Regions from separate parts of the Homo sapiens genome. Here regions 1 and 3 are each linked to region 2. The links come from fine-mapping of genetic effects on gene expression. A gene starts in region 2. Each other region holds a variant in brackets. All regions are shown on one strand. Distances are between the middles of the regions. Region 1 overlaps HHIPL1 (HHIP like 1). Region 2 holds the start of HHIPL1 (HHIP like 1). Region 3 overlaps HHIPL1 (HHIP like 1).

What was found. PIP is the estimated chance that this variant, and not a neighbour inherited with it, causes the effect.
Region 1: its variant is fine-mapped to the expression of HHIPL1 in testis (GTEx, PIP above 0.99).
Region 3: its variant is fine-mapped to the expression of HHIPL1 in fibroblasts (GTEx, PIP above 0.99). The same link has a PIP of 0.9 or more in caudate and prefrontal cortex.

The regions. Positions count from the first base shown.
Region 1 is chr14:99,675,468-99,683,641 of GRCh38, reverse strand. HHIPL1 (HHIP like 1) reads right to left here. Exons shown (of 9, transcript NM_001127258.3): 9 at 3,073-8,174. The coding sequence ends at 8,016. Among named protein-coding and RNA genes, the nearest start is that of CYP46A1, 4.7 kb to the left of the region's middle. RefSeq lists enhancers at 780-849, 6,296-6,858, 6,859-7,422, 7,986-8,174. The variant AATATATTAT/T (reference allele first, on the strand shown) is at 3,058.
Region 2 is chr14:99,641,515-99,649,688 of GRCh38, reverse strand. HHIPL1 (HHIP like 1) reads right to left here and starts at 4,560. Exons shown (of 9, transcript NM_001127258.3): 1 at 4,227-4,560. The coding sequence starts at 4,481.
Region 3 is chr14:99,665,923-99,674,096 of GRCh38, reverse strand. It overlaps HHIPL1 (HHIP like 1), which reads right to left. Exons shown (of 9, transcript NM_001127258.3): 7 at 5,794-5,875; 8 at 1,698-1,780. Among named protein-coding and RNA genes, the nearest start is that of CYP46A1, 14 kb to the left of the region's middle. RefSeq lists enhancers at 1,736-2,335, 2,336-2,937, 2,938-3,537, 4,479-5,020, 6,219-6,378. The variant T/C (reference allele first, on the strand shown) is at 3,272.

The DNA.
Region 1 (8,174 bases), 34 kb before region 2:
ACGGCGTGGCCGGAGGCTGTTCTCCCAGAGACTCGGGGGCCTGCGGACCCTCCTAGACCAGGCGAAGCCCCATCTGAGGCGCTGGCTCAGGCCCGAAGGAGTTGGAGTTGGAGGGATGAAAATCTGGGTCCGCCCTCCAGGGAAAGCGGGAAATGTGCCGGGGAGGCGGGGGTAGCGGAGGAGAAGGTATTTTCGAAATAATGACCAGGGCTTCCCCCTCTGTCGTAACCCGCGTCTCCTTGCCCATCCCGTATGAAGATGAGGCCAATTCTGGGCGTTTTAGTTCCCAATTCCTATCCCGAGGGACCACCCAGCGTGAAAGTCGTGGCAGGGGAAGGCCAGGTGTGCCCACTCCTAGCCCAGGTAAAGGTCCCCCGGGCTGGAGGTAGAGGCCCAGGGAGTGTAGATGCTGCTGGGTTTCTGAGAAGAGGCAATGCCCCTGCCCCACGCTTGAGCCAGTCCTGGAGAGGTTGGGGGTTGGAAAACGAAGGGGACCTTGGTACCGCCTTCCCAGGTATAGTTAGGGACATGGGACATGGCTGTTAGGGGTGTGGGCTGAGGGGCGACGGAGACGGCCAAGTCTTAAGAGCCGTGCCCAGCACGGAGGAGGCGGGACTTCTGCCCTCGGGGCCACCGCAGCCTGGACAGGTGGGCAGCAGAGCATCCATCCCCCCGGCGCCTGGCCCGGCCGCCCAGTTGGACTCGGGGATGTTGGCTTGCTATGGCGCCCCCGTGTGGCGGCGGTGACAGGCAGCCGCAGGCCCACAGGGTAACTCAGGCTGGCCCTGCTGGGGTGAGGTGTGGAACGGAGCCACCAGGTCCCCTGTGGGCTGTGAAAGCTCCGGGGCTTGAGGGCAATTTGGAGGGAGGATGAGGCTGCAAGAAGGAGGGTGTGGATTCCTGCGCACTGGAAGGTGGGTTGGGGTGGTTAGCTAGAAAAGAAATGTGACGGCATCACATTTAGTATCCAGTTTGTGGAACGGCTCCCTGAGATTACACAGTGCATCGCACTGTCTGAAGAGGACTTTCTCTTGCCTTGTCTCTCCAGACCCCTGGAACAATGGTACTGTTAGCAACAGCAAATCCATATGGGTCTGCAGCAGCCTCAGTTCTTGCCTCCTCAGAAGAAAGAATTCGACTGAGGGGCGTAAGGCAGAGTGAGAGGCAAGTTTTAGAGCAGGAGTGAAAATGTATTTAAAAGTTTTAGAGGCCGGGCGCAGTGGCTCACGCCTGTAATCCCAGCACTTTGGGAGGCCGAGGCGGGCGGATCACGAGGTCAGGAGATCGAGACCATCCTGGCTAACACGGAGAAACCCCATCTCTACTAAAAATACAAAAAATTAGCTGGGCGTGGTGGCGGGCGCCTGTAGTCCCAGCTACTGGGGAGGCTGAGGCAGGAGAATGGCGTGAACCCGGGAGGCGGAGCTTGCAGTGAGCCGAGATTGCGCCACTGCACTCCAGCCTGGGTGACAGAGCGAGACTCCGTCTCAGAAAAAAAAAAAAAAAAAAAAAAAAAAAAAGTTTTGGAGTAGGCATGAAAGGAAGTAAAGTATACTTAGAAGAGGGCCAAGCAGGTGACTTGAGAGAGGCAAGTGTGTGGCTTGACCTTTGACTCGGGGTTTTGTAGGTTGGCATGCTCCCGGGGGGTTGCATCTCTCTTCGCCCCTGATTCTTCCCTTGGGGCGGGCTGTCTGCGTGCGCGGTGGCCTGTCAGCACCTGGGAGGGGCCGAATGCACAGCTGTGTTTACTGAAGTTATGTGCGCGCTCATTTGAGGTGTTTTTCCCTTACCGGTGTTCCTAGAGGAAGGTCATCTACCAGTTAATCGCTGCCATTTTGCCTCTTAGTGTGCATGCTTGAGCCCACTCGCCCAGCTCCTGAGATCTTATCGGGAAGCTGATCACCAGCTTCAGGTGTTTCCATCTGTTGGGAGACTGCCTCTCCCTGGCACTGGCTGCGACCAATTATTATTTGAGAGAAGCAGTTTATCAACTGCCTGACCATCATCTGATGGCCACTTGACATTCCTCGTTGGGGGAGGGCCCTCTCCTGCCCTGCTCATGTCTGCCTGACTACCTACTGTCACAGTTCCTTGAGGGAAGAGCCAGGTCCTGAACAGCTCCAGGCACAGCCTGGAGCCCCACAGAAAGCAGGTGTAGAGCAGCATCAGGGAGCAGTGGTCAGCGTGAACCTCTCCAAATACGGCTAAGGAGAGGAGTGGGCATACGTCTTCTCTGACACATCGGGCAGCACCAGTGATCTCTGGCTCAACATGACCATGGCTTACCCCAGGAGCAGCACTTCCAGAGCAGTTGCCGTTCCCATCTGTGAGCCAACAGTCTCCCCTCTCCCTAGGCACCAAGCCCACAGCTGTCCCATCACCACCTCATTTGATGCTCCCAGCTATCCTGTGATCAGGTAAGGGAACACAGGCTGCATACCAAGGCTCCAGGTCCCAGGGCTGAAAGCCCTTTTCCTGGGTGGGCAGCGCTGCCTGGAAGCACGTGGCCAACCACCTGCTCCTTCACTGGAGGGTCTGGAGTAAGCTATCCAATGTGGCAGCCATTGGCCACATGTGGCTTTCTGGTACTTGACATGTGGCTAGTCCAATTGAGATGTGCTATGTGTAAGATACACACCAGATATCATAGATTAATACCAAAAAAGAATGGAAAAAAAAGGTCACCAGGCACAGTGGCTCACAACTGTAATCCCAGCACTTTGGGAGGTGGAGGCAATAGATCTTTTGAGAACAGTAGCTCAAGACCAGCCTGGGCAACATAGGGAGACCACTTCTCTACAAAAAATGAAAACAAACAAACAAACAAAAAAACTGGCCAGGCATGGTGGCATATGCCTGTGGTCTCAGCTACTCAGGAGGCTGAGGTGGAGGGATCACTTGAGCCTGGGAGTTTGAGGCTGCAGTGAACAGTGATGGGACCACTGCACTCCAGCCTGGGTGACAGAGCCAGACCCTGTCTCAAAAAAAAAAAAAATTGATATTTATATATAGGTACCTGTTAAAATGATAATATTTTGAATATGTTGGGTTAAATAA[AATATATTAT/T]TAAAATTAATTTTACCTGTTTTACTTTTTTAACATGGCTACAAGCAGATTTTAAATTACCTATTTGGCTCACATTATGTTTCTATTGGATAGCACCAGTATGGACAATGACTATGGCCCCTAGAACAGGAGGATTAGCATTACCCAGGAGCTTCTAGAACTGAAAATTCTCAACCAAGACTGAGTCAAAAACTCTGAGAGACAGGACCCAGCAACCTGTGTTTTAAGCAGCCCTGTAGAACTTGATTCTTCTCAAGCTTGAAACCCACTGGTGTAGATGACACCATACGAGGAGTGGTTTCCCAGCAGGAATTGTTGGGGAGATGCAGGCATAAGAGGTGGCTCTGAATTGGCTGCCTTTACATGGGTGGCCTGGCAGGGTGGAGGTGCTGTATCCCAGGGAAGGAGAAGGATCCGGCTCTGGGAGAATGGGCCTTGGTGCAAACCTGCCTCTAAAGCCCCGGGGACCACTTACATAACACCCTAGGAATCTGTCCCCTCATCTGGAAAACAGGGACAGTGATATTGAGGGTGTCTCGTGGAGCTGTTGTCAAGATTAAATGAGCTGACACACCCGAGGTAGCTGGCATGTAATAACTGCTCAGTAAAAGCTAGTTCTCAGTGGGGGAGGAGGGGCGAGGGGACAGAAGCGCGACAAGAAGACTTGAGTTCTACATGTTAGGCTGAAGGAGCTCTTTCTTCTGCTATTGTGAGAGTTTCTTCCCATGTCATTCTGATGCTGGTCCTTCACGTGGCATGCCCCTCCTCACTCTGTCGCAGACAGTTGGCTGCTGCCAGCATGGATGCCACCAGCCTCGAACTGAGCTTTCTGTCTAGGAAGCAACCTAGAGTGTACGTGCCATGCACGTCTGCAATGCTACCTCATTTTTCATCCAGTAATCCTTCTGGTGACCTCTATTTTGCAATGAGACTCAGAGAGGCACAGAGCCAGGACTGGAACCCAGTTTCCAGCTTCCTTGAACCTCCCAAACATTTCTAAGGTATCAACATGGTGACCCCTAGGCTCAGTCTAGGGCCTGGGATGTTGTGACCTCTGACTGATGTCTTGAACACAGTCCTGGACACTGGGCCACCCCTGCAGCATTGACCCTGAGGCTCCAGCACTAAGCTGTGTGGCACTGGGCAGGGCAGCCCCTCTCTGAGAATCTGATCCTGGCTATTGACTAGAGGTTGGATTAGAGGGGGTGAGGGTGAAGGCTGTGCCCCCATCCTCAGAGGCCCTGGAGGACTTTAAGGCAAGATCGGAGTCCCTGGGGACAGAGTCACATGTGAATGCTCCCTCAGCGGCCAGCTGTAGGTGGTGGAGTGAAAGAAGCACTGGACAGGCAGCCAGCTCTGCCCTTCTCTGAACTTGTGTCCCAGTGGGGTGGGGCTGGCTTTCAATGCCCTTGAGGTGGCCCAGCAGGAAGGCCCACAGCAGGGTCCCAGAGCTGGACTACCTGGGCTCAAATTCAAATTTTGGCTATGTGACATTTGGTAAGTGACAAATGCCCTGGAACTCGGCTTCCACGTGAGTAAATGTGCATTAATATGAGGATTACATGAGTGAATGGTATGTTAAACTTTCAGAGCAGTGCTTGGCATGTAGTAAGCGCTCAGCAGAGGTCAGCTGTTGTAGAAAGTAAAAGTTCCTCTTGAAAGTTTCCCTTCTTGTTAAAGAATAAATCGTAAGTGTTAGAAATAATGGTTTCTTTTAAAGACGAACTTCCTTCAAACCTCCTTGCTTTATGCTAATAACTCTTTGTCAAGCCCTATTCTATGTAACTGTTAGACGTGCTCACAGGCACATAGTACGTTCTATGTCCTTATACTTTAACCAAGATATCTGTGCTGGACGTGCTCACAGGCATGTCCCAGCTCACAGCCTATACCCCTTCCTTATTTGGGAATATTATTACTTTTCTAAGTCCTTTCGTAAGCAACTTCCTCTTTTCCTTTATCCTTCCATTACTTTTACCTATTTAGAAAAATTTTAAACAGCCAATCGGGTTTTAGTTTAGATTGTGCGGTCTGGCTTCTGCCAATGGACATAGGACACAGTAGCAGGGACAAACTGCATAAGGGCTAACAATTGCTTCCCTCCTTTGTTCAGGTGTCCTCTCACTATTGTTCCATCTGCGATGAGCACCCTTTCTGCAGAAAGTAAAATTGCCTTGCTGAAAGAATTAAATTTATGTTTTAGTGCTATTTCTTTCCAGCATCGGGGAACAAGTATTTACATATAACAGCTGTCCACTCTTATTACTACCTAGGGCAGAGGTCTCCAAACCCTGGGCCACGGACCAGTACTGATGGGTGGCCTGTTAGGAACCGGGCCACACAGCAGGAGGTGAGTGGCAGTGGGGCAGGGTAGTGTGGGGAGCAAGCATTCCCACCTGAGCTCTGCCTCCTGCCAGATCAGCAGTGGCATTAGATCCGCATAGGAACATGAAACCTACTATGAACTGTGCATGCGAGGGATCTAGGCTGTGAACTCCTTATGAGAATCTAATGCCTGATGATCTGAGGTGGGACATTTCATCCCAAAACCATCCCCCCAACCCCCATCCATGGAAAAATTGTCTTACATGAAACCAGTCCATGATGCCAAAAAGGTTGGGGACCACTGACCTGGGGACTGTGGAGTGAGTCCCCAGGAGGCAGGCTGCAGCCTAGCCCAGGCCTGGTTTGGGGCCTGAGAGGTGATGAGTTGGAGGCTGGGGAGGAAGAGCGCCTGGCCTGGAAGACTGAAGGCCAAAGCCCGAACTGCCCAGAGAAGTACTGGAGGGCCTGAGGCCGCACCCAGAGCTCCCTTTGCCAACCCTCCTAATCCAGCTCTGAGCAAAACAGCTTCTGGGGCCAGGCAAGCAGGGCCCTGGCTCGGCTGCATTCTTGAGGGCCTCAAGGCTTGCTGCACCTTCCCTGGCTCCAGTCTCAGCGTGGCCTCATCTGGCAACAGGCCTGGGACACTCAGCCTCCCTGAGCTCACTTCCTCATCTGCACAGTGAGGAATTCGGCTGGGATGGTCATTAACGGCCTGCTATCTCCTAACACGCCCGGCGTCAGAGCTCAGAACTCCCCTGCATCCCAGGAAGATGCCCACTCAACCTCCCCTGGGCCACTGGAGGCCCGAGAGGAGCATGAGGCCAGCAGCGGGGGCACCTGCCAGGCAAGAGGAGCCCCCAGGGATCTCCATCAGCTGCTTCCCAGCCAGGCTGGCACTCCCACACCAGGCAGGAGCCCCAGCACACCGCTCTCTGCAGGCATAGTGTAGCTGGGGAGGGCAGTGGTTAGGGTGCGGGGACTCTAAACTAAGCTGCTGTATTCAAACTTGACTTCTCCCTTCCCTGGCTTGGTGCCCTAAGATATCTAACCTCTGTGTGCCTCAGTTTCCCATTCTGTAAAGCACAGAGTATGAGGAGTCCAAGACAGTGACCTAAAGCTTTCTGCTGCAGCCCAGGATCCTATACTAGTGGCTAGGAGACCCTATACTAGCAGCTAGGAGACCCTGCCAGACTCATGCCTGCCCCAAGGCCTGCCCAGCCACCCCTGGTGCCAGCTCCCAGAACTTGGCACAGCATCACCCCCTCCCAAAGCCCCCCCATAGGTTGGGTTTGGGTGCCCCACCCAGACCTCTTCCAACCCCCGACATGGGCCACATCCTGTCTTCACTGCCTGGTGACTCATCTGCTTACCCACCCCCCACCCGTGCTCCCATCCGAGGCTGAGCGCAGTCATACTAAGTGCCCCTCTGCGGCCTGGCACAGAGCCAGGGCCGAGCATCCCTGGAGTGAAGGAGCTTCCACCTGTGATGCAGGTGGGAAGCGGGAGGCCTCACCCCTTTCTCCTGGTTCCCACCCCGGCTCCCACACAGGTGCAGGTCAGAGAGGAGGCAGGAAAGTGGTGTGTAAACAGCCACATTATTGGCATAGCCCTGGGTGAAAAAGTGTCAGTAGTTTCACTGGACCCCCAGCCTGGTCAGCCCCGAGGTAGGGCTGGAGGAATCAGGTCTCCTGGGTTTACACTGAGCAGGGATGGGGATGGAAAGGACAGAGGTGGCCCCAGGGCCCAAACACAGCTTTGAAAGTAGTGGAGGCCCACCGACTCACTGGAGGGCCAGGGTGAAAGCTCTGCCCAGCTAGTGTGGGTGGCTTCTGCCCCAAGAGCAAGAGAGAATCAGGCCTCAGGGTTGGAGGAGGCTGGTCCCATCCCAGGAGCACCCACAAGGACTGAGTATGCTGCTGAGTGGCTTCTCCAGCATACGGCCTTGGAGGTCATCCAGTCCTCACAGCCATCCTCCCTGAGCAGGTGCTGGCTCCTCCACGCAGCCTGCCCCTCCAGTGGGGCCCCAGGCCTGCAGCTCACCCTGCTCCCACCTTCCAGAAGGCTTTCCCTTCCCCACTGGATGCCTTCCGGTTCTCTCCAGCGCCTCTGACTGCCAGGGGGTGGGGGGGATGCGGGCACCAGGCCATGCTGTCCGGGCCACATTCCTCAGGCCACCCTCCGGCTGTTCTTGCACCTTCCATTCCAGCTGTGGGCAGGACAAGCCTGGTTCTCCCCACCGCCCTCAGTCTGCAAGCTGTGCCTCTGTTAGCACAGCCAGGGGCCATGTCCGTCCTCGAAGCCTGGCTGCCCTCCCTCCTCAGGGTCCCACAGCCCGGCTGCTGTTCCTGCTGGTGTCTGAAACGCTTGGAGGTAAGAAAGGAACTCCTCCCGCCCATGATGGACCATGCACTTCCAGAGCCCACACCGCCCCCAACACACACTCCTGCCTTGGGTCTGCAGAGGACACACATGCACTGCAGCGCCTCACACATGTCCCCAGGACAGCACACACCCGCACCCCCTTCACTCTAGAACACGTGTGCACCCGCTGGGCGCACACAGGGCGGAGCGGCCCCTGCCAGGCTCCCCCGCCGGCGGGATGGCCTGGGGCAGCGGCGTGTTGCCTACAGGTCGGGGTTCTGGTGGCTGCACACGACGCCCGCATCCTCGTCGTGCTCGCAGTTGTGGGTGCCCACGCCGTTGTGCTGGCACTCCAGCAGGTTCCGCTCCCAGCCCGCGCAGCGCACATCGTCCAGCAGAATGGGCAGCGAGCCGCCCTGGCC
Region 2 (8,174 bases):
AGAGTAGCTGGAACCACAGACGTGCTCTACCACACCCGGCTAATTTTCATTTTTATTTTTTGCAGAGACAGGGTCTCTCTATGCTTCCCAGGCTTGTCTTGAACTCCTGGGCTCAAGCAATCCTCCCGCCTTGGCCCGCCAAAGTTCTGGGATTATAGGCATGAGCCACCGTACACGGCTTGACTCCTATTTTATAGATGAGGAACTGAGACTTAAAGAAGGCCACGTGCCAAGAAGTAGCCAAACCAGGGCTCACACCCAAGCCTCATGATGCCTGGACTGGTGTTCTTTCCAGATTAGTCAGCAACATTTCATTCACCAAGAATTTACTGAGCAGAGATTGTACCAGGCACCATCTTGGTTCCAGAGACGCAGTGAGGGGCAGAACAGACATCTGGAAGGCAACGAGAGCCCTCCGTTCACCAAAGCCCAATCCAGAACTACAGAGGGAGCAAAAGTTCCCTCAGGGAGCCAGGCCGAAGACCTCGGCATCCGTGCGTCCCAATCACACAGCAGATGCTTCCTCGTGGCCTATGTACTCTTACTTACACACGACGTAAATGTGGTGCCCAGACCAGGGTAGTCCAGAGCTAGGAAGTGACAAGAAGACATAGTGATTGCTGCTGGCAAGAGGATGATCCGCAGCTTGGCCTCAGTGTGTTTAGGGGCAGGTGGCAGGAAGGCCATAGGAAACCAGCCCAGTATCGCAGGCTTCAGCCGCCCGGGCCATTCAGTGCAGGGCGGAGGGCCCCCATCTTGCCCAGAGTTTGCCACCCCCATGTCACTGACACTCGTGACTCATGGCCCTGGGTCCTGAAGGTTTCTTATGTCCACCGTTCATTTTTTGAAAGAGCAAGCCTTTGCACAGTGTCCTGTCCATCGGATATTTGCTTCTCACCTACTTCCTCATCTGGCAAACTGCTATTCATGACTCAAGGCCTACTCAAAGGTCTCCTCTTGTCCTCCATGCTCCCAGGGCTCTGACTGTCCCATCCCTGGCCCTTATGGATGCTCCCAATGCACTCTGTCCATATCTCAGACACGACACTCACTCCATTGAATCTTGTAGCTTACAGGGTGAGTTCTCTACAGCAGTCACTGCTCCGTCGCCAGGGGCGCTCCAGCCAGTCAGCTTGGCTAGGACTTCATTATCTCTTTGCATGTCTGTCCACTCCACGGACTGTGGGACACAGTGGGGCTTCAAGGAGGGAGGCAGTGTGGCAAAGCGGTTAGGAGAATGGCTTTGGAGCCAGCGCACACATTCCCCATGGGGAATGCTCCTTAACCTCTTACTGCTCTTAACCGTGGGCAAGCTCCTTAACCTCTCTGTGCCTATGTCCTCATCTGTGGAAGGGGAAAGGAATTCCAACCTCATAGAGTTGTTGGGAGGAACAAATGGAGAAGATGTATGTGTTTGTTCAGTAAATAATGAGCTATCAACATGCAACCAACATTCAGGAAGCCTTCCCTGAGGTATGTGGCCTTGTTCCTACACTCCTTGAGGAATTTCTGGCACCTTCCTGTGTGTGTCAGTCTCCTGAAGTGATGAAGGGGATTTTTGAGACTGGGCCTGTGACTTGCCAACTGTTTTTGGGCCCAGCATCCAGCACAGGGCTGCCTCCTAACAGGCTCAGGAAGAGCCTGCTGAATACATGAGCCCATAGAATACATTTCATGGAGATCTCCATCAGAAACCATGCTTTGATGATTTTAGTGGCTTAGAGAGGCAACCCCAGTCACAGGGGAGGTTAGCGATGTGGAAGCTCACACCAGATGCACTGGGGATGCCACGTGCCATGGCTGTCCTCTCTCCTCCAGAGGACACAGGCACTTACTGGACAAGCAAAGCCTCAGGAAAGAGTCTCCCATCCCCCCAAAGCAGGTGTGAAGGCCTGAGTGCCTCCACACTGACAGAGACCTATGAATAAGGCACCTCCACCACCTCCCCGTGTGGAAATCAGGAGGTGCCAAATGCAGACTCTGCCTTGGCTAGCAGAGAGCATGGTCCTCCCGCCAGCATGCTCCAGGAGGCCCCGTCAGTGAAACCATAACCCAGCCTCAGCCGCCGTCTCTAAGCTCACTCCAGACATGAGGTCACTCTCAGAGACGCCTGGGCTGAAGTGTTAGTGGTCACTCCTGCTAACTGCTGGTTGCTTAAAGCCAGGCTGTCCTGGGAAGTTTCCCAAGAAACCTGCCAGGGGACAGCATCAGGACTGACCCTTCCCTTCCTCCATCCACCTGCCCACCTCACTGCCGTGCTGAGCCTGGCACATAGCAAGTGCTCAATAGACAAATGTGGCATGGATGCAGGAACTCTGCTATGTGATGGGGGTAGGGAGACCAAAGGACCTGGTCCTGAGGAGCCCCCAGGCTGGTGAGGGAGGCAGACGCTTGGCCAGACCATTCCCGTGCCCTTGAGGTGTACAGCATGGGAGTCCAGCAGAGCCCACCTAAAGGTGGCCAGCCCACCCTCTGTTGCATTCTGGAGCTCCCCAGGGCCCCCTCCTCATCCTCCCAGAGTCTACTGCTTCCCACCTAAGATATGAGCTCGCTTCAGCGAGTGTGGTCCATGTCCCCACCTCAACCACCGCTGGGCTGTGCGACCACTGGGCAAGTCCCTGCCTGCCTCTGAGTCTTCCTTGATTCGGGCTCCAAGCCTCACCTGGACCCTTCCCAGGGCTGGGCAGCCAGTGAGGGCCAAGGAAGCCCTCGAGAAATCCAACTGCAAACACTTACCGAGCCCCTAGTATGTGGCATTTAATCTGCATGGCCACCCAGGGGGGTGGTTAAGGTTTTATTTTATTTATTTTATGTATCATATTATATCATATTATATTATATTATATTATATTATATCATATCATATCATATCATATCATATCATATCATATCATATTATATTATATTATATTTTTGAGACGGAGTCTTGCTCTGTTGCCCAGGCTGGGGTGCAGTGGCTCAATCTTGGCTCACTGCAACCTCTGCCTCCCAGAGTCAAGTGCTTCTCCTGCCTCAGCCTCCCGAGTAGCTGGGATTACAGGAGCTCCCCAACATGCCCAGTTAATTTTTGTATTTTTGTAGAGATGGAGTTTCGCCATGTTGGCCAGGCTGGTCTCGAACTCCTGACCTCAAGTGATCTGCCCACCTTGGCCTCCCAAAGTGCTGGGATTACAGGCATAAGCCACCATACTCAGCTTCATTTTAAAGATATTGTGAGGTGCAGCAGTGACCTGCCCAGGTCACGAAGCTGGGGAAGTGACAGAGCCAGGATCAAACTCCAACTCCAAGTCAGCCTTCTTGCCCTTCCCCACACCACCTGCCCCTGCTGGCCGAAGGCTGGGACACGGCCCTGGCCCCTGGGGCCTCTCCACCCCAGGCCTCTCACTGCCCAGATGCTGAGGCAGGAATGCCTTGGGGCTGCCCGTCCTGCTCCATTTCTGCATTCAGCCAGGCAACATTTGCCCACTTGGGTGTGGTCAGGCCCTGGGGCCTCAGACTCCCACAAGAGGAAAACAAATAGCGGTGGCACCACCAGGTGTGCACAGAAGCAGGGGCTCCACCCTCAGAGGGAAGATGGGGGGCCCAGGGGCTTCAACAAAGAGCTGTCGCTCAGTCTTGAGAGAGCTTCTGCAGGCCAGGGCGCCATCCCCAGGAGAGGGCACAGCACCCACAGAGGTGGTGGCGGAAGTGGCAAGGGCATCAGGATGGGGGTGAGACGCTCGTGGGGGACAGTGGCCCCAACCCCCTCAACAAACCCGGGCCACACGTTGACCACGCCCACGCCAGGGCCCCCTGCTTTCACTGCCCCGGGGACAACACAAAGGAGCACTGACCGGGACAGATGCCTCTCCACCTTGGTACCCCGACAAGGGTGCAGCTGCTCGGGGTGGGACGCTGAGGGGTCGACTCCAGGGGACTGGGGCAGAAGAGCCCCCAACCTCTGAGGAAATGATGACATCATCTGTCCGTCCGTCCGTCCTTCCTGCTTCAGGAGGGGAAACTGAGGCCCCGAGAAGGCCCAAGTCACAAAACTAATGAATGGCAAAGCCAAGAGTCGTCCTGGGATGCGCGGTCTCCCCGCCCCGTGCCAAATGACTCCCTGTTGGGGCTTAGAGTTCCCGAGTCCGCCGCCCACTCTTGGCCCTCGCCCCCGCGGGGTTCCGATCTCTGCTCCAGGACTCGGCCTCCCGCGCCCCGCCCCGCCCGGTGGCCGCGCGCCCGCTCACCTGGCACAGCAGGTCCCTCGCGTAGCCGGCGCACGCGGCCCACTCGGCGGCGTCCACGCGGCTCGCCAGGGCCCAGAAGCGGCGGGTCAGCTCGGCGTCGCGCCCCTCATCGCAGCAGCCGAAGTCCGAGTACTGCGCGCAGAGGCGCAGCGGCTGCGTCGGCCGGAAGGGCGGCCTGAAGTCCAGGCACTGCGGATGCGCGGCGGCCCCGAGCACCCAAAGCGCCAGCAGCGCCCCGGCCCTGGCCCGGGCCATCGCTACGCCCCGCGGGGGAAGAGGCGGAGGGACGGCAGCCCCGGTCCCCTCCCGGGGCGCTCGCGGCGGCAGGGAAGGGGCGGGCGCTCCCCTTCCCTACACGCAGGGCCTCGAGTTTGGGGACCTCCCCTTCTAGGAGGTCACCTCTGGTCGGGGACACTCGGCGGGACTGAAGGAAGAGGGACGCGGCGCAGAATGCGGCACGACCTCTTTTAACCGCTTTCCAAATTCGATGGGAGTGGCCCGGTCTGTTTAAAGCCCCGGTGTGTTTTCCCGGTTCCGCCTGGGGCCCTGCTTCCTCCCCACAGGGCGCTCTTTAGCCAGGGAGGCGCAGGGCCAGAGGCCTGGACTCCTGGGCTTCGGTTCCACCTCCCACTGGGCTAGGGAAACGGATGCCCGCAGCCCGTCCCCGAAAGCTCCCACGTAACATTTTAAAAATGGGGGTGCGAGGGAAAGAACAGGGGGTGTTGCCCCAGGACTCTCAGGGAGAAGTGAAACCTGGCGTAGGGGTGGGGAGGGAGGACGGAGCAGTCTCCGCAGTCCACCCTTTGCCCTTACTGTGGGCTTCTTCCCAGTCTCTGCTCCTGGGGCAGCGGATTCTCCTGCAGCCCAGGACCCACTGGGGCTCCCCACTTCCACTCTCGCATAGGGAGCACTGATGAATCTACCTCCTGGGATGGGCATCCAGCCCTTTGTTCCGCTGCCCCCGCTGGAGATTCAGACCCAACCCCGCCCCACCCCCCCACACACATACAGACGCACACACGCTGTCTTACCTACCCCAGAATCTCATGGCACCAAAACCACCCACACAGACAAACACACACACACTGTCTCACCTACCCTAGAATCTCACAGCACCAAAACCACCCAGGCATTTTTCTCAAGTGGACCTCAGCGTTTGCTTCTCCCTGGAGTGTCCTTCCCCATCTTCTCTGTCCAGTGAGCTCCTACTCCATCTTCATGGCCCCAACGCACACATCCGTCCTCTGCAGGTCTCTTTGGACTGTCCTGGGGGATCATGTTTCTGTCTTTGGGCCCATGCTCCTGGCAGAGCTGGGGGTGGATGAGATGCGGCAGGGCTGGAGCACTCAGAGGTCTGTGGCTCTGGCCTGAACAGGTGCAGTGTAAGAGTCAGGGTCTCCGCACAGCCAAACATCTCTGAGTATTTGAAACACGGGGAATTTAACGCAGGGACTTGAAGCCAAAGAGGCTAAGAAGCCATACAGGGCTCAGTGAAGTAACCTTGAGATCAGCAACAGTAGGAACAGTCCCCAGGTCCTTGATGCAGGAAGAGCAGATGTTACTGGAGCCAAGGAGCTATGGTCACCTTGTCAAAGCTGGACCCTCACAAGGCCTGTCTGGCCACAGCTGGAGATAGCCACTGTCAGAGATTCTGCACAGACAGAGGAGGAGAAATACCCCGGCTTCTCCCTGCCACTTCCCCTCCAACTCCCACCTGTGGCTTTCATTGGCTGAACCTAGCAGAGGGCTGCTAGGGTGGGAAATGCGGCCTGCAACGGCTTCCTGCACAGACAGCTGGGAATAGGCAGAGCCAGGATGGAATCGGAGGGCACGATGGCGCCTACTTCCCAGCTGGGACTCAGAACTGGGTGATAGTCACACATCAACACAGGGCTCCAGATGAGTGTACAGAGGTGGAAGTGACACAGAGCCTGGGCCACAGCCATGAGGTTTGGGCTCCTACAGCCACAGAAAATGTCAAACACAGCCCAGCCCCAGCCAGAGTAACATAAATCCTCACCCTAATACCTATTTACCTCGGTTTCTGTTATCTAGTACATCCTGATTGGCTTTCCAGAAAAACAACAAGGCATGAAAAAAAGATAAGAAAAGTCACAGTCAGGAGCCGGGCACAGTGGCTCACGCCTGTAATCCCAGAACTTTGGGAGGCTGAGGCGGGCGGATCACCCGAGGTCAGGAGTTCGAAACCAGCCTGGTCAACATGGTGAAATCTCGTCTCTACTAAAAATACAAAAATTAGCCAGGCGTGGTGGCACGCGCCTATAATCCCAGCTACTGGGAGGCTGAGGCATGAGAATCGCTTGAACCCAGGAGGCGGAGGCTGTAGTGAGCTGAGATCGTGCCATTGCACTCCAGCCTGGGTGACAGAGCGAGACTCTGTCTCAAAAAAGAAAAAAAAAAGTCAGTCAGAAGGAGCATCAGAGCCAGCCTGGGACATGACACAGATGCTGAAATTACCAGACATGGAATTTAAAATAACTATGACTAATATGTTAAGGGCTCTGGTGGAAAAAGTTGACAACATCAAGACCAAACATCTCTGAATATTGACAAGGACATTGGCAAGGACAAATGGGTAATAGAAGCAGAGAGGGGTCCACTTTAAGAAAAAAAATGAAGGCCGGGCACAGTGGCTCATGCCTGTAACCCCAGCACTTTGGGAGGCCAAGGTGGGCGGATCACGATGTCAGGAGATCGAAATCATACTGGCTAATACGGTGAAACCCCATCTCTACTAAAAATACAAAATTTAGCCGGGCATGGTGATGGGCGCCTATAGTCCCAGCTACTTGGGAGGCCGAGGCAGGAGAATGGCGTGAACCCAGGAGGCGGAACTTGCAATCAGCTAAGATTGCGCCACTGCACTCCAGCCTGGGTGACAGAGCGAGACTCCGTCTCAGAAAAAAAAAAAAAATTAAAAGATATATTAAAAGTCAAAAACAATGTAACAGAAATGCCCTTGCCGAGCTGACAAGTAGACTGAGACTGCCGAGGAGAACACCAGTGAGCTTAAAGATGCGTCAGCAGCAGCTTCTCAAACTGATACACCAAGAGAAAAACAGAAGTTACAAAAACAAACACTAGAGCATCCAAGGACTGTGGAACAATTTCCAAAGATGTAAATACAGATAACTTGAAAATGGGAAAGAGAAGAAGGGGAAAAAAATGGCAGAAGAAATAGTTGAAGTAAAAATGGCTGAAAGGGCAGGCACAGTGGCTCATGCCTGTAATCCCAGCACTTTGGGAGGTGGAGGCGGGCTGATCACCTGAGGTCAGGAGTTCGAGACCAGCCTGGCCAACGTGGAGAAACCTCGTCTCTACTAAAAATACAAAAATTAGCCAGGCATGGTGACGGGCGCCTGTAATCCCAGCTACTCGGGAGGCTGAGGCGGGAGAATCACTTGAACCCAGGAGGCAGAGGTTGCAGTGAGCCGAGATCACACCACTGCACTGTAGCCTGGGCCACAGAGCGAGACTCTGTCTCAAAGAAAAAAAAAAAGGCTAAGAATTTTCTGAAATTCATGACAGATACAAAACAACAGATCCAAGAATCTAAGAGGCATAAAGCAGGATAAATACCAAAAAATCAACAGCGAGGCATATCCTATGCAAACTGCAGACAACCAAAGATGAAGAAAAACCTTGAGAGAAGCCAGAGGGGGAAAAATACCTTACCTATAGAAGAACAAGGAGAAAAATTACAGCAAACATTAGAAACCAGGCAAGCAGGCCGGGCACGGTGGCTCACGCCTGTAATCCCAGCACTTTGAGAGGCTGAGGCAGGTGGATCACCTGAGGTCAGGAAGTCGAGACCAGCATGGCCAACATTGTGAAACCCCCGCTCTACAAAAATACAAAAAATTAGCCAGGCATGGTGGCGGGCACCTCTAACCCCAGCTACTTGGGAGGCTAAAGCAGGAGGATTGC
Region 3 (8,174 bases), 24 kb before region 2:
AGGCCAGGGCCCAGAGCACCATGACATGGGCAAGGCGCTCCCTGTCCCTGCACCCTGGCCCCTGGCCCCCACCTCCTGCTCCTCAGGCTGCCTCACCTCTCCCACTGTGGCTCTTGCTGTTCCCTCTGCCTGCACTGCCACCCCCCTCGGTGCACCCTCCTGAGTGAACCTCCCTCTTGGTGCCAGCCCCCCTCAGTGCACTCCCCCAGGTGCACCCCCCCGTGCAACCTGCCTGGGTGCATCCCCCAACTCTGTGCACCCCCCCTCCATGCCGCCCCCCTCAGTGCACCCCCCCTCCATGCCACCCCCCTTAATGCACCACCCCCTCCGTGCCACCCCCTCAGTGCACCCCCCTCCATTCCACCCCCCTCAGTGCAACCCCTCCAGGTGCACCCCCCTCAGTGCACCACCCCCTCTGTGCCACCCCCCTCAGTGCACCCCCCCTCCATGCCATCCCCCTCAGTGCACCCCCTCCAGGTGTACCCCCCTCAGTGCCATACCCACTCAGTGCCATCCCCCTAGCTGCCACCCCCCTCAGTGCAACCCCCTATTGGTGCACCCTTCCTCTTCTTTTCAGACTCCAGGAACCCCTACCCCCAACCCCAGTCTCCACTGTTCTGGGTGGGTCCTCACGGTACCTGGCACACACTTCGATCACAAGGCCTTGGACAGTAAATGACATCTCTGTCCGTCCCAGCCAGAACAGGGCCTAGTCTGACTTCTCACTGTGGCTCTGGCATCCAGCATGGAGCCAGTAACTAACAAAAGTGCCAGAAACTGCTGAATGAGTAAATGAAAAACTCACCAAGCCCTGAAACCAACTGTGGCCAGAACTCACTTCCAAAATCACTGAGCTCAGACCCTTCCCCCTCTACCCGGGTACCTCTTCAGCCCAGGTGCCTAGCCTCCCTCTCTTCTTGCCCTCCCCACCCCCATACACACCCAGTCTGCCAATGGGTGGCCTGCTGAGCCCACTTGGCCTGCTGAAATATTTTCCTTGGCTCGCGGAGTGGTTTTTAAAATTCTGAACTAGTCGCCAACACTTTGAATTGGGAGGTTGTACCTAACAGGCTGAGAAGGCGAGGACTGCAGTGTCTCGCCGTGTGCTGTATCCCCAGGGCAGGGCACGTGTCCGTGGTGAATGAGTGGATGGGGGGATTTTCTGCTTCTCTGAAGAATTGGAAGACCTGGCAACACAGGGTCTTTGTTCCCACCTAACTTGGGCCCAGGGGAACAGCCCCAGCCTGGGGCATCCCCTTCCCCCAGTCCCAGGCCCCATGGGCAGTCATTTGTGGCCCTGCTCTGTCGTCTCTCCTCATCAGGCTTGTCAACAATCTATGAAGGCCCAGCCCATATGCCAGCCCCTCCCACAAACAACTCTTCCGGTCTCCCTTGCTTACACACAGATACATCCTCTTTCTCTGTCCCTCCCAAGAACTCACAGAGTACCTTGCCTGGCACCAGCTATTTCTCTCTTGGTTTAAGGAATTGTGACCAATCAAGCAAGACCCAGTTTAGTTAAAGTCCCATCCACCTTACCACCATGTCTAATGTGTGCCAGGCACAGTGCTAGGCACAGGGGCTGAAGAGGGGCATCTAGGTCCAGCTGGTAAGACCCGAGTCTGGCTGGAAAGGCAGCCGTTGTGGGCTGCGGGATCTCTCCCCCAACCCTCAGTGTCCCACTGGCAGGCACTTACTTTCTTTGGGCACAAAGGGGATGAGACGGCTTCTGATCTTCACCTGAGCAGGCTGGATCTGACATTTGCCAGGTGGTGCCCGCCTGCCAACGACACACAGGAGGTTATGAGTCTCACCCTGGGAGCCCACCCTGAGGGTGCCTTTTCTCTACAGTGAGGCAGGTATGAACAGCAACGATAGTAACAGGCGGCCATTCACCATGCACCTACTGTGTGGCCTGCAGCTTCCCTGCCCACTCCATGCCCCCAGGATTCTAAGAGCTCCAGGGCATAAATCCCCTATAACAGCCTACCGGCTGCACGCTCAGCCTCTGCTGGAATAGCACCAGGGCTGGAGGCTTACTCTTTCCCAGGACATTTCTAATCCAGAGCATGGACTCTGTCCTCAGGGTGTGAACAAATGCCAGTCTCTCTCCTCCCACAGCCTGCCGTCTGATTCCTGAAATGCAGCCTGATTCCTGCCCGCCACCCTCTCCCACCAGCCCTACAGCCTTTGAGGAGGGTCTCTCTCTGCCCCTCTGGTTCCTGGATTTCTGATGCAGGATCTGAGAGGCTCCTCTGCCTGGAACCACCTAAAGGACGGGGGCGGCGGGGGTGGTAAGGAAAGCAAGCCTTGTGCCTGGAGGCAGAGCTGAGGGATTTGGGGCCTTGGCATGTGGGGTGTGAGAGAGCAGGGAGACAAAAGAGTCAGAGAAGGGTGCCAGGGCTAGGAATTGGGTCTCCTTTGACATTTTTAAGGGCACAATAGGGAATGGAATTCCGTTTTAATTAGTTTTTGGCCGTCGATCTGTGATTCTTTGGGAATGACCCCATTCCAGGACAGACCCACGTGGGCCCACGACTTCAATAGGATTCCAGTGGAAAGGCCAAGGGGTGAAGCAGCCACGTGACACGGAGTGGCCTCCAGACAGGCTTGGCCGAAGAGGGACACAAAAGAGGGACAAGGGTCTTTGTCCCCAGAGGCTGCAGAAACACAACCAGGCACATACGCTTCTCAAAGCTGCAGGAAAAGCGAGGTTTTTTTCTTGCTCTGACCTCCAGAGAACATCCACACACTTCAGACAGACCCAGTGGGGCTTTTGTTCCTTAAGGAAATTGCATTAAAAGTCTTTGTTATGCAAAAGGGTAGGATATCCACCCCAAAATGCCACAGTGGTTACGTGTGGGTAGTAACAGATGACCTGACCCTACCTCCTCCACTCCCCATTTATTTCATTTTCCAAATGTACTATAATGGGACCTCTGTGTAATATGTGTGGGTGCAAAGAAACAGTTATTCCAAGACAGGAGAATGAAGGGAGAAGGGTCAGGGCGGGAGGAGGAATCTAGCCCACTTCTGGCTCCTAACACAAGACCGTGAGCGAGAGAACTCCTTAAGTCTCGTTGGGGTCCCTCTCTATGACATGGGGACAACAAGCCAATAGGGAAACGGGATTGGAAAAACCGAAGATGATGGCTCTAAGGCAACATCTGGCATGAATTAGGCACTCACTTGGTATATGTAGCATTTCCTCAGAGGAGCATTCTTTTTTGAAAATTGGAAATAACCTAAAATTCCAAGGAATGGGTTATAG[T/C]GACTCAGCAGAAAATCAAGCAGCCATTAGAAATGGTTTTTTGGAGGGCGATGTTTGCAACGTTTAGACAAAATGGGCATAAATGAAGGAAAAAGAACCAAGTCTGCGTGTGATCCAAATACAACCACATAAATCCTGGCGCTGCATAGATAACAATGGATGGGACCTCAGGGAAATGAGAAGGAAGGGATGGAAGCAGGAAGTGATTATGTTTTATTTGATAAAAAGTCATGTCAATAATTTATGTGTGCTCTTAAACAAGAAAAAAAAAAGTCTGGTAAACAAGGAAAGTGAGAAGCTGACACAAACAGGGGAAAGCTAAGCAGACGCAACCACTAAAGGCAACACAGGATCCTGGAACAGGAAAAGGGCATTGGGGAACAACTAGAAACATCCTTTGAAAAAGAGTGTGGAGTCTGGGCGTGGGGGCTCACACCCGTAATCCCAGCACTTTGGGAGGCCGAGGTGGGCCGATCACTTGAGGTCAGGAGTTTAAGACCAGCCTAGCCAACATGGCAAAACCCCATCTCTACTAAAAATACAAAAATTAGCCAGGCATGGTGGCAGGCACCTGTAGTCCCAGCTACTCGGGAGGCTGAGGCAGGAGAATCACTTGAACCCGGGAGGCAGAGGTTGCAATGAGTTGAGATCATGCTACTGCGCTCCAGCCTGGGAGACAGAGCAAGACTCCGTCTCAAAAAAAAAAAAAAAGTAAAAGACTGGAGTTGTAGAGTTTAATTAATAGTGATGGACTGATACTAGTTGACTAATTTTGACATGTACACTATGGTAATGTGAGGTGTTCATAATAAGGGACACAGGGTAAGGGGCATACAGGAAACACTGTAGTTTTTACAACTTATCTGTAAATCTGAAACTATTCTAAAATGTCTTTTGTTTTGAGATAGGGTCTTGCTCTGTTATCCAGGCTGGAGGGCAGTGGTGCGATCATAGCTCACTGCAGCCTCGACCTCCTGAGTTCGAGTGATCCTCTCACCTTAGCATCCCAAGTAGCTGGGACTATAGATGTGCGCCAGCACACCAGACTAATTTTTTAATTTTTTGTTGAGATGGGGTCTTGCTATGTTGACCAAGCTGGTCTTGAATTTCTGGGCTCATGAAACTCTCCGACTTCAGCCTCCCAAAGTGCTGGGATTACAGGTGTGAGCCACTGAGCCCAGTGTAAAAGATTTTAAGCACAATAAGTGTTTTAGAATTTTTCTTTTTGTAAAATTAATTAATTTTTTTAGAGACAAGTTCTCCCTGTGTTGCCCGGGCTGGACTTGAACTCCTCCCATCTGCCTCCCAAGAACGTGAAACATGCCAGCTTGTTTCAGGATTTTCCCAAACCTGGTGTGTCTCAAAGTTTAGGGTAACTAAACACAGTGGGGACTCCTAGAGTCTGCCAAAGGTGTGGATTCTCGGAGTGCAACCTCAGGCCTTGCGTTAGAGACAAGTACAAGCTGTGTCCGTACCCAGTGTTGAAGAGACGTTCAGACTGCTGTGGAAGCCAGCAGAGAAGCGAAAATCTAAGGGCTGAGAAGCAGCTTAGAAAGCTGATCACTCATTTATTCATCAAGTGTTCCTGAGTCTCTGCTCCGTGCCATTCCCAGCACCTGGGCGGCCTCTGCAGAGTGAAGAGATACAGGCTTGGCCCTGAGACTCCCAGAGCAGCTGGGAGAGAGTCAGTCGTGTAGCCCAGGGATTACCAAGTCTGAGTGATGAGAGCTGAGGAAGGGCTGGACAGAGGCCTGGAGGGCAACGTGGGTTGGGGAAGGTGCTTGAAGAGGGTGAGGTGAAGGCACACAGCCAAGGGGTTAGGGCAGGGCTCTGGAGCCAGTGGCCTGGGCCCCACCCTGGCCCTGGGCCCCAGGCCCATGACTTCGTGTCTTTGTGCTCATTTCCACCACTGTAAAATGAACGGCTGAGACGTCAATGAGCTGCACACGGAAGGAGCTGGGACATAGCCGGGCATGGCGCTTCTGGCCTTACAGCTAGAAGGGAAGCCGGGGAGATGGAGCCGGCGAAGGGAGCCCCAATGTGTTTTCCCCAGTGGAAGATGGACCACAGGAGGAAGGGCAGGCACGGGGCGGGGACACACAGGGATCAGGGTGTCATCTGGGAGGCATCACAGAGGCAAATTGGGGGCTGGGGTGTGGGGGTGCAGGGGCAGCCCAGGAAATGAGGAATGAGGGGCCTGCTAGACAGGAGGAAGACGCAGGGAGGGCGGGCCAGGCAAGAAAGCCAAGTGAAGCCTCGGCCCGCGGCCCCAGTCACCTCTCCAGCTCCCTCCTATCCTAATAGACCTGTGCTTTGAGGCGTGCAGACCCGGGTCTGAATCCTGGGTCTGCCCCTTGCCGGAGGAACTGAGGCAAATCACGTCCCTCTCTGGGCCTCAGGGTTCTTGTCTGAAAATGGGGATTAATACCACCCACCTGAGGGCGAGGCGGAGGGGACAAGCCCGTGGAGCTAAGAGGCCTGACAGACAGCAGGAGCTCCCTGTCCTGGAGGCTGGGACTCACCTGGATGCGTCAATTATTTTGTAGACAACTCCGCGTGGAGCTGTGGCACTCGGCTCCCCTGTCGACATGAAGTACAGCTCCCCTTTGGACAGAACAAAGTGACTAGTGAGACCCCCACCTGGAATACCGTCCCAGCCAGCCCCGCCTCACCACCCGGCTCCCTGCAGGCTTGGAAATAGACCCCAACCCCAGCTAGCCATCACGTGAGGCATCCCAGCTCAGTCTAGCTGTCCAGTCCCCAGAAAGAGGAAGTGAGGCTGGGTGAGGAGTTGGGTTGTACCCAAGGGCCTCTGGAGCCTGGTCTTCCGGGTGTCAGGCACTCTGCCTGGACCCACCCAGGCTCAGATCTCTGCTCTTGCCTTTTCCCGGTGACCCAGCGCCACCCCTGTCACCTACCTGGGTTTCATGCCCAGCCCCACACACCTCTGGGCGCACATGAGGGGGCTACAGCCCAGCTCCCCAACTGCTTCCAGGGGACCCGCAGGCACATGTGGCTCTCTGAGCCTCAGCTTCCTCATCTCTAAAATGGGCATGCCTCATTGGGCTGTTATAAGGACTGAAGAGCGCAGAGCGTGTGCTTCATCAGCATTAGCTAGCTATGATTGCAGGCGTCATCCGGGATTTGGGCCCTGCCAGGTCCTCGAGGCCAGGGTGTCTCTCTGCTGACAACAAGCACCTCCCAGGCAGGAGCAGAGTACATGGCTGGGAGTGTAGGTCCTAGCCCCTCTGCTTGGCCCCCTGTGATCTCCAGCAGCTGTGTGATGGTCCCATTCTAAGCCTCAACTTCTCCCCATCTCAGAGCTGCGCTGAAAATGTAACCGTTGGAGTTCTGAGCCCCTGGTGCTGAGGACTGTCTCAGGGAACGTGGGTTCTCCCTGCTCCTCCCACTCCAATCCTCCCTCCCAACCCCTGCTGCCAGGGGCACCTATGACCAGAAAATAGGCTGCATTATTCCTACCTCACAGCTGAGAAAAAAAAAAAAGAGGCTCAGAGAAGTCAAGTGACTTGTCCTAAGTCACACAGCTAGTGAATGGTTAAGCCAGGACCAGAACTCAGGAAAGTCTGCTGCCCCAGCCCCACACCAATATTGGATGCATGGTGGCTGGGAGCCCAGACACAAGGCACACATGGCTCATCCTGAGGGTTCAGCCATGCTAATACCTCTGTCCTTGTAAAAGGATAGCAGAGAGCTCAGCTGGACTGGGGGCAGGGAGGGGGGTTTCCCCACGGAGAGGCTGAGACAGACAGCTTGGTAATAGGTTGGAGGAAAGCATATCCCTGGGGACAGGTGCAGTCAGGGAGGGCTGCATGGGGGTGGGGTCTGAGAAGCAAGGCACAGGAAACTTGGGAAGTGCAAAGGGAAGGCACTTGAGGGGTAACTTGTGTAACCGGGGTAGACCCAGCTGTGATGGGGCTGGGGGATGAGGAGAGCAGTACGCTGAGTGGTCAATGGCCCCTGACCCCCCAACCCAGGGGCACCAGTCCCACTGGGGAGGTCGGGGGAGGAGCTGTAGGCACACATGGTGATGATGCAGCCTGCAGCATTGGGGGTCCCCGGGTGGAATGTCCCTGCTGAGAAGTCCATGGGCACAGCCCTAAATTGGCCACACAGCCTTGGGCCGTCCACTCCCCTCTGGGCCTCTTTCTGGAGTGAGCCACCAGGAGCAGCCCTGGTCTCCTCTGTTCCAACCCCTTGAGGAACTCCCTGGTTCATCTGGCCAACCGACCTTAAGGCCCCACTCTGGGAGGTGTCCAGGGGCCAGGCTGGGCATGGTGCCCCTCCTCCATAACCAGGCGTTCATAGTCAGCCACAGTTTCCCCATTGGTAAAATGACAAGGCTGGACCAGGCAGACTGCAAGGCCCCTTCCAGCCGTGATCTGCTGGGAGCTGTAGCCCCCAACCCTCTGCACACACAGGGAGCCCCTGCGGATGCTGCCAAGCCCGCCCAGGGCTGCTGTTGAGACTCAGAAAACAATGCTCCAAAATGAAGGCCTCAGAAGCTGCCTCCGAAGCAAAAGTTTTTCTCTGACCTTCGCCTGTCCTCCCGTCTCTCAGTCCTGTTCTCCCCCGAGGTGCCATAGAAACTAGAATCTCTCTTTCCCATGGCAGATCGTAGAAACCAGCACACATTTCCCCCAAAGCCAGTCATAGAACCTAAAAATATTATTGTAACTCTCCCCCAACCTTTCTGTGTAAAACTGGCCATAAAGAAATTATCTGAGTTCAGGCATGGTGGCTGACGCCTGTAATCCCAGCACTTTGGAAGGCCAAGGCGGGCAGATCACTTGAGGTCAGCAGTTTGAGAGCAGCCTGGCCAACATGGTGAAACCCCATCTCTACTAAAAATACAAAAATTAGCCAGGCATGGTGGTGCGCACCT